Homo sapiens: one gene and its partners. The protein of the gene in region 3 interacts with the protein of the main gene of each other region in a pairwise test. Each region holds a gene or a part of one and is shown on either strand. Other genes may lie near its edges.

Region 1 (3,744 bases), on a different chromosome or scaffold from region 3:
TTTATGCCGCAGTCTTCTACGGTCTCTGCCGCTTCTGCAGCGAACCCCTGGCAAATTAAGTATAAAACTCGTTGCCTGATCGACAGAGAAGGTTGTTCACCCCCCAAAAATAAACTGCAGCTCTTCCGCAGGAGCAGCGCGGGCAAGCGAAATGAATCTGCTGGGCTAACCCCGCGTTGACTCCGAGCTGTAAATCAGGGGCCCGCGCACCAACTTTCATTAATTACTCGGAGCCAGTTAAATGGCCTGGTCTTAAAAATGGGAAGAGTAATTACCGAGTAATGTTATCTGTCTGGGGCTACCCGACCTGACACCATGACACCCAAGGGAAAGCTGGTGAGGGGGAAAACAAGGGCCCCTTCCAGTTGGGCCTTCAGATGGCGACCCTGCGCTCTCCTCCTCCTCCCCCCTATGGGACCCACCTTGCGCCCAGGGGTCCGACCCTGACCACTGCTGTAGGAGCCAACTTCCTCACTCCCCAGGCTGGACAACCAATTTCCTTTAGAGTGTGCCTGACACTGTATCTCCCTTTCCCTCCATGGTAGTGCTTCGGTCCTTTGCCTCAGTTTCCCCCTAGGGAAATCCTAGCATTCCCCCCCCCCCCCAAAGTGAGAAAAAGAGCGTGGAGCCTCAGTTGGAAAACATAGTCTTTTATAATTTTTGTTATTAAATTGCTTTAAACTTATACCCCACAAGCTTCTGGAAAGCTGTTGCTGCCTCTGGGGAAAAGGATCCTTCGGCTAAAGATACGTCATTGGCCCCGGAACCCAAGGATGGGGTCTCATTCCTCTACAAGTTCCGGAGTCTGTGGCCTGAAGTCCAGACACAATGGCTAAGGAGAGCTGCTCCTATGGGATCCTGGCAGGGCCACCCCAGCAGCCTCAGATCCTCCTGGCCCAGGACTGCCCTGGGTCTCCAAACTTCACAAAATTCTCAGGAGTAAATTGGGTCAAACAGCACCCATTCTCCCACTCTTGCACTATTTGACCAAAGTGCCTCCAAAGACTTAAGCAGGACTCAGCCGATGAGCAGGACCCAGGGCATCGTTACCTCCATTTTCGAAACACACACGGACGCTCATGCACACACACCACCACCCCCCGCCCAGAAAAAAAAAAAAAGAAAAAGAAAAAAAAAAAGCTTCTCTGGGGCAACAGAGGCATGAGCCTGGAGGGTGGTGTGGCAGAGTGCAAGGGAGGGAAGGAGGGGGCAAATCCTAACTCCCGGATAGTACAGGTCCAGGCTTAAGTCTCACACACTGCTCAGCACCACACACTGGGGATTTGAGAAGCCACTAGCTTTTATCATATGACCTCGAGGGCCTCCATTTCTCTCCTGCTAAGTGGGCAAAGATAACCCCCGGCCCCGTTAGCTCTCCTGCATGGGCGAGCACGTTTGGGCTTCCACAGACTTCCTTTTGAAACCTGAGGCCTGGCCTTCTTTGAGGCCTATAGATGAGCTTACAAACGAAATTTGGCTCAGGGCACCCACTATTGCCCGGAGTGAAGGCCGAATTTCTGAAAGGACACTAAAAAGAGAGAGAGAGAAAGAGAGACAGACACAGAGAGAGAGAGAGAGAGGGAGGGAGAGAGAGAGAGAGAGAGAGAGAGAGAGAGAGAGACGAAATAGAAGCTACGAAGAAGTTTTCTCTAGACGAACCCTTCTCCATTCCTGAGCCCAGGAGTAGGCAGGGACCCAGGGCACTGCACAATCCTCAGAGCCCTGCTCCGCAACTGTCCGTGCCCGGCGAGGGCCGTGGGTCCCGAGTCGCGGCACCCACTCTCGAGACGTCCGTCCGCACCCCAGAACTCGGGCCCAAGGATGCCCGTGGCCCGCGAGCCCTCCTAGGCCTCCTCCCAGACCGGACACGCAGACCTCGGCGGGCAAAGACCGGCCTCAAACCCTCTCCTTCAGGTCCCCCCGGGAGGGGCAGTGGTGAAAGCGCCTGCGGAGCGGAGGGAGGTCTCTTTTAATTAGAAGCTTATCGGACACGGGTTTGATTAGAGCGCGCTGTCCCTGGGCCCAGCGCTTGGCCTGGCGCGGAGAGTGCGGGGGCAGGGGCCAGGGGAGGTAAAGCTGCCGGCTGGAAGGAGCAGCGTGTTCAAAGGCTCCTTGTACAGGCCTTGGAGGGAGAGAATCGAGTGGCCAAGGTAGCGCCTTTCCCACGGTTAGTCCCGGCCCGGGAGGGGAGCGCAACCTTGACCGTGCGCTAAGAGGCGAGACGCGCTCTGTGCCCTCCTCCCCCGCCGGCGGCTGCAGAGAAGCCGGGAACCGCCTGGCCTGGCCGGGCCGTGAGAGCTGAGGGGTGAAATGGACAGCAGGCTCAGCCAGGAAGGTGCTCAGAAGGCTGAAAACGATGACTGCAGCTGCACTGTGATTGGGGAAAACCTGTCCCCCAACAAAATACCCTCTCCTGTGTGACCGGAAGAGGGAGCCTTTGGCCCTCGGGCGTCGCAGGCCTCCGCACCTGACCCTAGGGTGGCCTGATGATCCCAGGCCTAATCATGCCTTAGGGTTCTGCGAGCCTGCGGGGCTGCGGGATCAGTGGACTAGCAGGCAACCTCTTTTTTTTTTTTTTTTTTCCGAGACGGAGTTTCGCTCTGTCGCCCAGGCTGCAGTGCAGTGGCGCGATCTCAGCTCACTTCAACCTCAGCCTCCCGGGTTCAAACGATTCTTGTGCCTCAGCCTCCCGAGTAGCTGGGATTATAGGCGCCCGTCACCAAGCCCGGCCAATTTTTTTTTTTGTATTTTCAGTAGAGACAGGGTTTCACCGTGTTGGCCAGGCTGGTCTCAAACTCCTGACCTCAGGTGATCCAACCGCCTCGAGCCACCGCGTCCGGCCCAAGCAAGCTTTTTTCCCCTCCTCCTTAAGCCTTGCATCTAGTCTGGGGCTACTCAAGTCCTCACCCCACATCTGCCCTCACAAACCCGTCAACCCCCACACATGGACTAAGAGTTTGGTGCCCCTCCCGCAGGCCAGAAGAAATCCATCTCAACGGTGGGGCCAAGATCCCTGGAAAAGGAGTAGAAACACCCTAGCATGGTCTGGGTTCAAATCCCACCTCTGCCACCTAATCTCATAGAACCTGGATTTCCTCATCCAAAACAAGGGGCCTCTCCAGGATTAGCTGGTGAGCTTCTTGCAAAGGTTCTCGAGGCCATTGTCTTAATTAATATTCAGAACCCAGTGCCTGACCAAGTAGGCGATTGATGTTTGCTAAATTAATGTTTACAAGATTAGGATGCAAGATATAATATTTAAGAATTTAAAATATGAACATGCTTGTGAAGTTTTGGGCGGTTGTGAGTGGGTACCAACAATTGCCCCTGCCTGTGCACCATGGCTAGACTGCCCTAGGGATCCAGAGACGGCCTTGATTCCTCTCCCCTGGGGTTTGGCCTTGGCGCTCTGATGGCCATTTCCACATTTTTGAGAGTTGATGCCCTTGCCTCTCACAGCCCAAGTCTTGGGCCAGGCCCTGCATTCCTGGGGAAGCAGCAGGAACCCTGGAAATCCAAAGAATAAACCCAGAATCTCGAGGGCCACCCTTGCCCACTCCAGGATAGCAGCCGGAGCGCTTCTCACATCCAAGCTGCCCAATGAGCCTCAAGGGCTGGGTAAGATGGACCCATCTGTTTTCACTGCAAGACAAAACTTAAACCTGGAGATGGTGCTTCCAGGCTATATGACTTGAATCTAGGGCCCTCTCTCCATTGGGCTTTTTCTCCAGGGTGGAGAAGAAG
Region 2 (3,744 bases), on a different chromosome or scaffold from region 3:
ATGCACACACACACACACACACACACACACGACAGCCCAACATCCTCATGCATATATATTCTTCTGCATGTACTATGCACCCCAATGGATACACACACACACTATTAAGTGCAATGTTTGCCCACACCAATCTGTATACTCACCACAGCCTATAGGCAATACAGCCCAGCCCACACCAGCACACACTCACCCATCTACTTCACCCCTAGCTGCCTGTACACATGCCCTAGGGTACTCACAGACACACACACACACTCCTCTCCTCACCACACACCCCACGGATGCCCCCGAGAAACCTCAGCACATTCTCCTGACCCCACGCACCACACTCACCTCACCAAGGCCCACAACACGGACCCACCGCCATGGCCACGTATGTTCCCTAAACACACATCGCTCCTAGACATCACCCTCGGCAGGTGCATCCTCTGACTCAGACATGAACCTCACAACTCGGATACAACCTTTCCTCTCGGCTGCACCCCCCACACACAGCGAGCGTGCCCGGTGGAAGCACTGAACCTTCTGCTTCCGGCCACCACTGATCTCGGGAGGGGACACCCAGCAGAGGCTCCGCAAGCGGCCCATGAAGGCCTGAGCATCAGGTCCCAGGGGAGCCGCTGAGCGTTCCCAGGGCACTCTAGAGACCTCTGCCTGCTGCTGCTGAGGGCCTGCCCCAGGCCAGGTGCTGGGAGCATGTTATTTATGCAGCCTCCTTTAAGCATCACAACTGCCCAGGGTTTTATCATCCCCATTCCACAGATGCAGGAACTGAGGCAGGGGTTAGAATCCAGGCATGAGGCCTCTGTCTCTGAAACCCTTGTCCTGGACATTCCTGAGCCACCCCCAGACCCATTGCTTGTCCAGGGCTAAATTCATACATCTGTGCCCCGCAGCTGCCCTCACCCCCTGCATGACATCAACTCGGCAATGCCCACAGCTGTCCATGCCCACCCAACATCCACACCCACGCGCCAGCACACGATGGTGATAAGACTATGCAGCTCATAGCATTGCAGGAGAAGGGGCTGAGCACGGGACCCAACACACCAGGCACTCCCAACACCCTGCCTCCACATGTGCGCAGCCTACTTGTCCCTCCCTGAACCTGCCCCAGCAGACATACATCCCGCCTCACATGCCATTAACAGGTCCACAATACCTGCATCTCAGTTCCCTCCACACACACATGCGCGCAAACACGCACTTTCCTTCCGGGTACACACAAGTGCACACACACATCGGGATGAAATGTGGCACCCTTCCTAGTGGACTGATGCCCCCTGCTTCCATTTTTCCTCACAGTCCCCTAGTCACCACACCTTCCTGAAGTAACCCACAGCCTCACTCCACAGAGGCACCTCAGGCTCCCAGCCCAGAAGGGACCAGGCCCAGCAGTGACCCACAGGCCCCCTCACTCCACATCCACTCCCACCGATCCTCTCCTAGAGTTTTAGAGCAGCAGCTGGGGAGGCTCCCCTGGGCCAGGGGCAAGGAGGTGCCACCTCCCAGGTTGCCCAGCCCCCTCCCTCCCAGGAGCACCCCATCAGGGCTGTGATGGGTGAGGGTCCAAATGAGCTGGATGTCAGCTAAGTCTCCTCACTTTCACGGCTACCTCTACCCACCCACTCATCACTCACTCTGAGTGCAGGGGACACGTTCAGGAAGGCCAGTGCATCCCTCCCACCCCATCCTCTCTCAGAGCCCACTCCAGAATTTGGGGTCTCTCGTGCCCAGCCCCACACCACCATGAGCCTTCCTAGAGAAACCGGTCAGCACAGAGGCAAAGCATAATGAACCAGCTCCTCTTTACTACCCGGTTGGCTGTCAGGCAAGCCATTTAATCTCAGCACCTCAGTTTTCTCATCTGTAAAATGGAGATGATGAGAAGACTACGCAGCTCATAGCATTGCTGTGGGAAGGGGCTAAGCACAGGACCCGACACCAAGTGAAAAATGAATAAATCAGTGTAGCCACGATTGCTGTTAGTTTATGTTAAAATTTCTATTATTATTTCGAAGCCTTTATCTCATGTAAGCCTCAACCTCCTCATGAGGGAAGCCAAATTGGGATGACTACACCCAGGCAGATGAGACGATTAATGCCCGGAGAGGTTAAGTGGCATTGCCAAGGCCACACAGCAGGGGAGAGTGCAGAGAGAGACAAAAAGAGAGAGGTTGGATGAAGGGGGAGAAAGGGCAAGTTACAGAAACAGACACAAGCACACAAATTAGGTCAGCAGGCTGGGGGCCAGGAGCCCGGCACCCCTGTGCAGCGCTAATCATGTTGCAAAAAGCCAAGAATAAAATCGAGTGTAATTAGTTCTGCCCGAGCTTCCTTCCCCTAATTAGCCAGACTCAGGCCTCACTTTCCTGGTGACCAGAGGCGACATGAGCAAGGGGTGGGGGCCCAGCTTTAGGTTCTGACAGTCTTGGATTCAAATTCAGCTCTGCTTACTTGCTGGGTGACTTTGGATGTGTTACTTAACCTCTCTGAGCCTGTTTGGTTAAATGAGGCCAACAATGATACTTCATAGGGCAGTTGTGAGAATCAAGTGAGATCATGCCTGCACACAGTCGGAGCCGTATAAGGCTTTGTCTATATTCCTACAGCCTGCACTTCCCACCTCAGGCTGCAACTTCAAGGCTACACTGGGCCTGAGGGATCACTGAGTTCAACTCTCCCCTTTTACCGATGTGGAAACTGAGGCACAGAGAGGGGAAAGCCTTGCTTATCACGAAAGGAGGGGGCGGGGTTAGTCTGCCACGAAGCATTCAGAGAGGTAAAGTGATTTGCCCAAAGACACACAGCGACGTAACTACTAGCTCCTCGAGGCAGGGAGGGAGGGTGTCTCAGCATGGCCCTCTGGATCCCTGCAGGCTCCGTCCCCAAAAAGCCCTCAGTCCTGTGAGAACTCAGTGCCCCTCACGCTCACCAGATCCACCCCGGAGACCCAGAGCATCACCGCAGGAATGTGGGCTGGGGCCAAGCTCCGGGCAGCAAGACAGCCAAGGGGGCTGCACAATTGGGAGCCGGGACCAGGAGGGGGATGTCTCAGTCCCCACCCCCACCCAGCCACAGCTGCCCTGGCCAGGAAGCCGGCAGTCCCACACCCACTTGTGGCTGGAGATGAGGGGCACGAGGACTGCACCTGCTGGGGAAGGGGCTATGGAGCCCAAGTCCCAGAGAGCAGAAGCCCGGGGAGGAGTGGAATGGGGAGGGCAGAGAAGGCCAAGCTGAAACACCACAGACCCCCCCCAAGAAAAATCCACCAAGCCCAGACACACACCCTCCCACTCGCCCCAACTCACACACTCAAGCCTCTCACAAACCAAACCTATCCCCACCCCCTACTCCCATCTACAAAGGCAGCTCAGAGGGCAGGAAATGTTCCCTTTGGGCCTGTCCCATCCCAGTCAACTCCTCTGCAAAGATATCATGGCAGCAGAGCCCTCCCTACCCCAAGCCTGTATCTCTCCTGTCACCTCCAGTCTGCCCTCTACCCAGCCCTGTGTTCCCACCATCCCCCCAGGATGCCCTTTTTCCCACTGTGGCACCTGCCTCCACCCACATCCCCACCCCAGCCCCAACAGGAGAGCAGGTAGCAGCCCTGGCTCAGGCGCCCACAGCCTCCAAGACCGTGGACAAATCCTCTTCCCCCTTCTCTGCCTTTCCTTTGCCCCATTTGCAAAATGGAAAACCAAGCATGGTGGTCTAAGGGCCTTTCTGATTCTGACACTCTGG
Region 3 (3,676 bases):
CTTTCCAAGGACAAAGGTGGTTACTCAGCTGCAAACAGTGAAGCACACAAGGAAACGACACCATGAGCGAGAACTGGTGGAAATGACAGAAAGCTGAAATGGACCCACAGAGACTTCAGGCATTGGGATGACCGTGCACAGATATTTGAAATAAGAGATCAGCTCTAAAATGTCTTCCAGGAATGAGAAATATTTATTTTATTTAATAAGAGAGGGCTGGTGAGAAGATGATGAGTGGGGGTCAGACAGGCAGAGGAAGGAGAGAGGGGGAGGAGCTGAGCCCAGGGAGAGGCCGGGCCGGGTGGGTGTGGGGGATTCACAGAGAAGCACCCCCGGGGCCTGGAGACGCTGAGGCTGGCAGGAGAACCCCACAACAGCAGACCCCGCACAGCGGGAAGTCAGGACTGCCTCCGCCCCTGGTGCTGTCAGCCTGGATGCAGCTCAAGGCCAGAGTCCCGAAGCTCCCACCCCACGCGGCACGTTGAAGTTCTTCCCACAGGGTTTGCCAGATATGCAAAAAAGACCTCTGAGAGGGCACATTGGTGACTTTATTTGTTGACAGACTGATCACTCACATGGGGCAGGACACAGTGACCACCGGCTGGCCAGCATGGAGATGAGGGTGTGGGAGAGATGCATGCCTGGAGGGAATCGGCATGAAAGCTCAGCATTGCTGGCTGGAGGTGCAGTGGCTATGGGCAGAGGAGACTCAGACAGGGCTCAGGGCTGCAAGGATTTTCGGAAGTCAGAGATGGCCCTGGAACAACTCTGGAGAAACGGGACCTGCCCGTCAGCAGCTGGACTTCTGGCCTGAGGAGAGGCCGCAGCACGCGGAAGAGAGGCGGGAGCACGTGGGGCGGCAGAGGAGGGACACGCAGGAGGCCGGGCGGCAGCAGCTGGGCTGGCAGGTGGAGGCAGGGGCACAGCAGGAGGGGATGGGCACACAGCAGGTGGACCTGCACACGGGGCGGCAGAGGAGGGACACGGAGGAGGAGGGTCTGCAGCAGGAGGTGGTGCAGCAAGCCGGCTGGCGGCTAGACTGCTGGCAGCATGAAGAGGAAGCCCCAGAGCAGACGGGCACACAGCAGATGGGCTTGCAGCAGACAGGCTTGCAGCAGACGGGCACACAGCAGACTGGCTTGCAGCAGACAGGCACGCAGCAGGCCTGCTGGCAGGGGGAGGATGTGCAGCAAGCTGGCTGGCAGCTAGACTGCTGGCAGCACGAGGGCGTGCAGGAGCTGGTGCAGCCTGACTGGCAGGGGCTGGGCTCACAGGCCGCCTGGCAGCAGGGGCTGGACACACAGCTCACTGGGGTGCAGACCAGGGTCAGGCAGGGGGCCGGGGCGCAGCAGCTGGTGGCGCAGCAGGGGGGCTCACAGCAGCTCTCTGGGCAGGCGTCCACCTGCCAGGAGTCAGAGTAAGCGCTGGAGCAGACGGACATGGTAGACGTGGCCATGCTGGGGTGGGGAGGAGGTGAGCTGGGGGAGACGTGAGTGAGTGAGTGTGGGAGTGAGTGAGGGAGTGAGTGAGTGATCGTGCCAGGCCTCTGAGTGGTCGGAACCTTTATACCCCTCTGTGTTGATTGTGCTGCCCCTGCCTGGCTTCGAGAAGCCTTCCTCTTCCTTGTTGTTGTTGTAGGCACTGTTGTGTTAGTAGTGTTGGTTCATTGTTTGTGGATGTTCTGGTTTGTGAGGCTCCTGACTGGAGTTAGGGCTTCCCTAATGTGGGCTTGTCCACAGAGATAAACTAGTAGAAATATATTGATTGCATCAAAGCACACTGCAGAAGCAGGGACAGTGGCAGTTAGGAGATATTCTGGAATTGACAGCCCTCTGCTCCATCCCAGGAGGAGTTTGCACTTAAAAAAAGACTTCTACACCTAAGGAGGGATGAGGTTAGGAGAACCTCAGTTTCTGGGCCTTGAGGAAAGGGAGAGATGTGTTCTGCTGTGGACAAGTTTGAAGATGCTCAGTTGGCCTGGCCACACGGCGAGATCCACCCTGTGGGTTGACACTGCTGGTTGTCAGTGGGAACCATGGGGCATATTTCTGCTGGGGGTGAGCCCTGGGGCAGGTGTGAGGGAATAGTGTCTTCCTGGGCAGAGATTGGCTCGCAGAGGGGAGCAGGGAGGCAGCTGCAGGCCCAGCACAGTAGGGATGGAGATGAGGGGCAAGCACCTTTGTTTCATTTCACGTTGAACTGTTATGGGGCCTTCCCCCGGTGGTGTGCACAATAGTGTTCACACCTTCTCCTCTCACATCTCGGGCAACATCACCTGCAATGGTGTCCTTGGGAGCTCCAAGGTCTCTTCCCTTATGGGCCAGAAAGTCATCAGAATGTATTAGTTCTACTGTTGGCTCCTGGACATTGTCATAGTAAATGTACAAATAAAAGGGTCTGATTGCAGAGCCTTGTCTCACAAATACCTATACACCTGTGTGTATCAGCCCATGCCTGTGCCCGGGACCATACCTGTGCGCTAGTAAGCCCCCAAAGTTCTGATCATGGATCCCTCATCTCCTCACTCTATGATCGCTATTTTCTACTAAATCTTTGAAATGGCAAAGGCAGAGGCTCTGATGATGCTCTAGGCTGCAGGGCTTTCCAAAATTAGGCCAGGGGTCCACTGAGTGCTTGGTGGGGGCCCATAGGCTGCAGGGTTTGAAGCCTCTGACCTTTGATGAGTATGGCTAAGGGCTCTGTTGGAGGACTACCTGGCAAAGTCAGACTACAGTGGAAAAATATTATTTCATAGAAATAATAGCTGGACACAGACTGGCAAATTGGATGAAGAGTCATGACCCGTCAGTGTGCTGTATTCAGGAGACCCATCTCACTTGCAAAGACACACATAGGCTCAAAATAAAGGAATGGAGGAAAATGTACCAAGCAAATGGAAAGCAACGTAAGCAGGGGTTGCAATCCTAGTCTCTGATAAAACAGACTTTAAGCCAACAAAGATCAAAAAAGACAAAGAAGGGCATTACATAATGATAAAGGGATCAATTCAATGAGAAGAGCTAATTATCCTAAATATATATGCACCAAATATAAAAGCACCCAGTTTCATAAAACAAGCTCTTAGAGACCTACAAAGAGACTTAGACTCCCACACAATAATAGTGGGAAACTTTAACACCCTGCTGTCAATATTAGACAGATCAATGTGACAGAAAATTAACAAGGATATTCAGAACTTGAACTCAGCTCTGGATCAAATGGACCTAATAGACATCTGCAGAACTCTCCACCCCAAATCAACAGAAGATACATTCTTCTCAGTGTCACATGGCACTTATTCTAAAATTGACTTTATAATTGAAAGTAAAACACTCCTCAGCAAATGCAAAAGAACTGAAATCATAACAAAGTCTACCGGACCACAGTGCAATCAAATTAGATCTCAAGATTAAGAAACTCACTCAAAACCACACAACTACATGGAAATTGAACAACCTGCTCCTGAATGACTCCTGGGTAAGTAACGAAATTAAGGCAAAAATCAAGAAGTTATTTGAAACCAATGAGAACAAAGAGACAATGTCCCAGAATCTCTGGAACACAGCTAAAGCAGTGTTAACAGGGAAATTTATAGCACTAAATGTCCACATCAGAAAGCTGGAAAGATCTCAGATCTACACCCTAACATCACAATTAAAAGAACTAGAGAAGCAAG

What was found.
Region 1: the proteins of KRTAP10-3 (region 3) and WT1 interact in a two-hybrid assay, tested with the Homo sapiens proteins (2 studies listed by BioGRID and IntAct).
Region 2: the proteins of KRTAP10-3 (region 3) and SDC3 interact in a two-hybrid assay, tested with the Homo sapiens proteins (3 studies listed by BioGRID).

The regions. Positions count from the first base shown.
Region 1 is NC_000011.10:32,428,871-32,432,614, forward strand, and holds part of WT1 (Wilms tumor protein), read right to left. Parts: intron 1,944-3,744; exon of another isoform or gene 1,670-1,943; coding exon of another isoform or gene 1,660-1,669; intron 1-1,659. UniProt on the Homo sapiens protein: Transcription factor that plays an important role in cellular development and cell survival. Recognizes and binds to the DNA sequence 5'-GCG(T/G)GGGCG-3'. Regulates the expression of numerous target genes, including EPO.
Region 2 is NC_000001.11:30,881,025-30,884,768, forward strand, and holds part of SDC3 (syndecan-3), read right to left. Parts: intron 1-3,744. UniProt on the Homo sapiens protein: Cell surface proteoglycan that may bear heparan sulfate. May have a role in the organization of cell shape by affecting the actin cytoskeleton, possibly by transferring signals from the cell surface in a sugar-dependent mechanism.
Region 3 is NC_000021.9:44,557,260-44,560,935, forward strand, and holds KRTAP10-3 (keratin-associated protein 10-3), read right to left. Parts: upstream 1,537-3,676; 5' UTR 1,457-1,536; coding exon 791-1,456; 3' UTR 531-790; downstream 1-530. UniProt on the Homo sapiens protein: In the hair cortex, hair keratin intermediate filaments are embedded in an interfilamentous matrix, consisting of hair keratin-associated proteins (KRTAP), which are essential for the formation of a rigid and resistant hair shaft through their extensive disulfide bond cross-linking with abundant cysteine residues of hair keratins.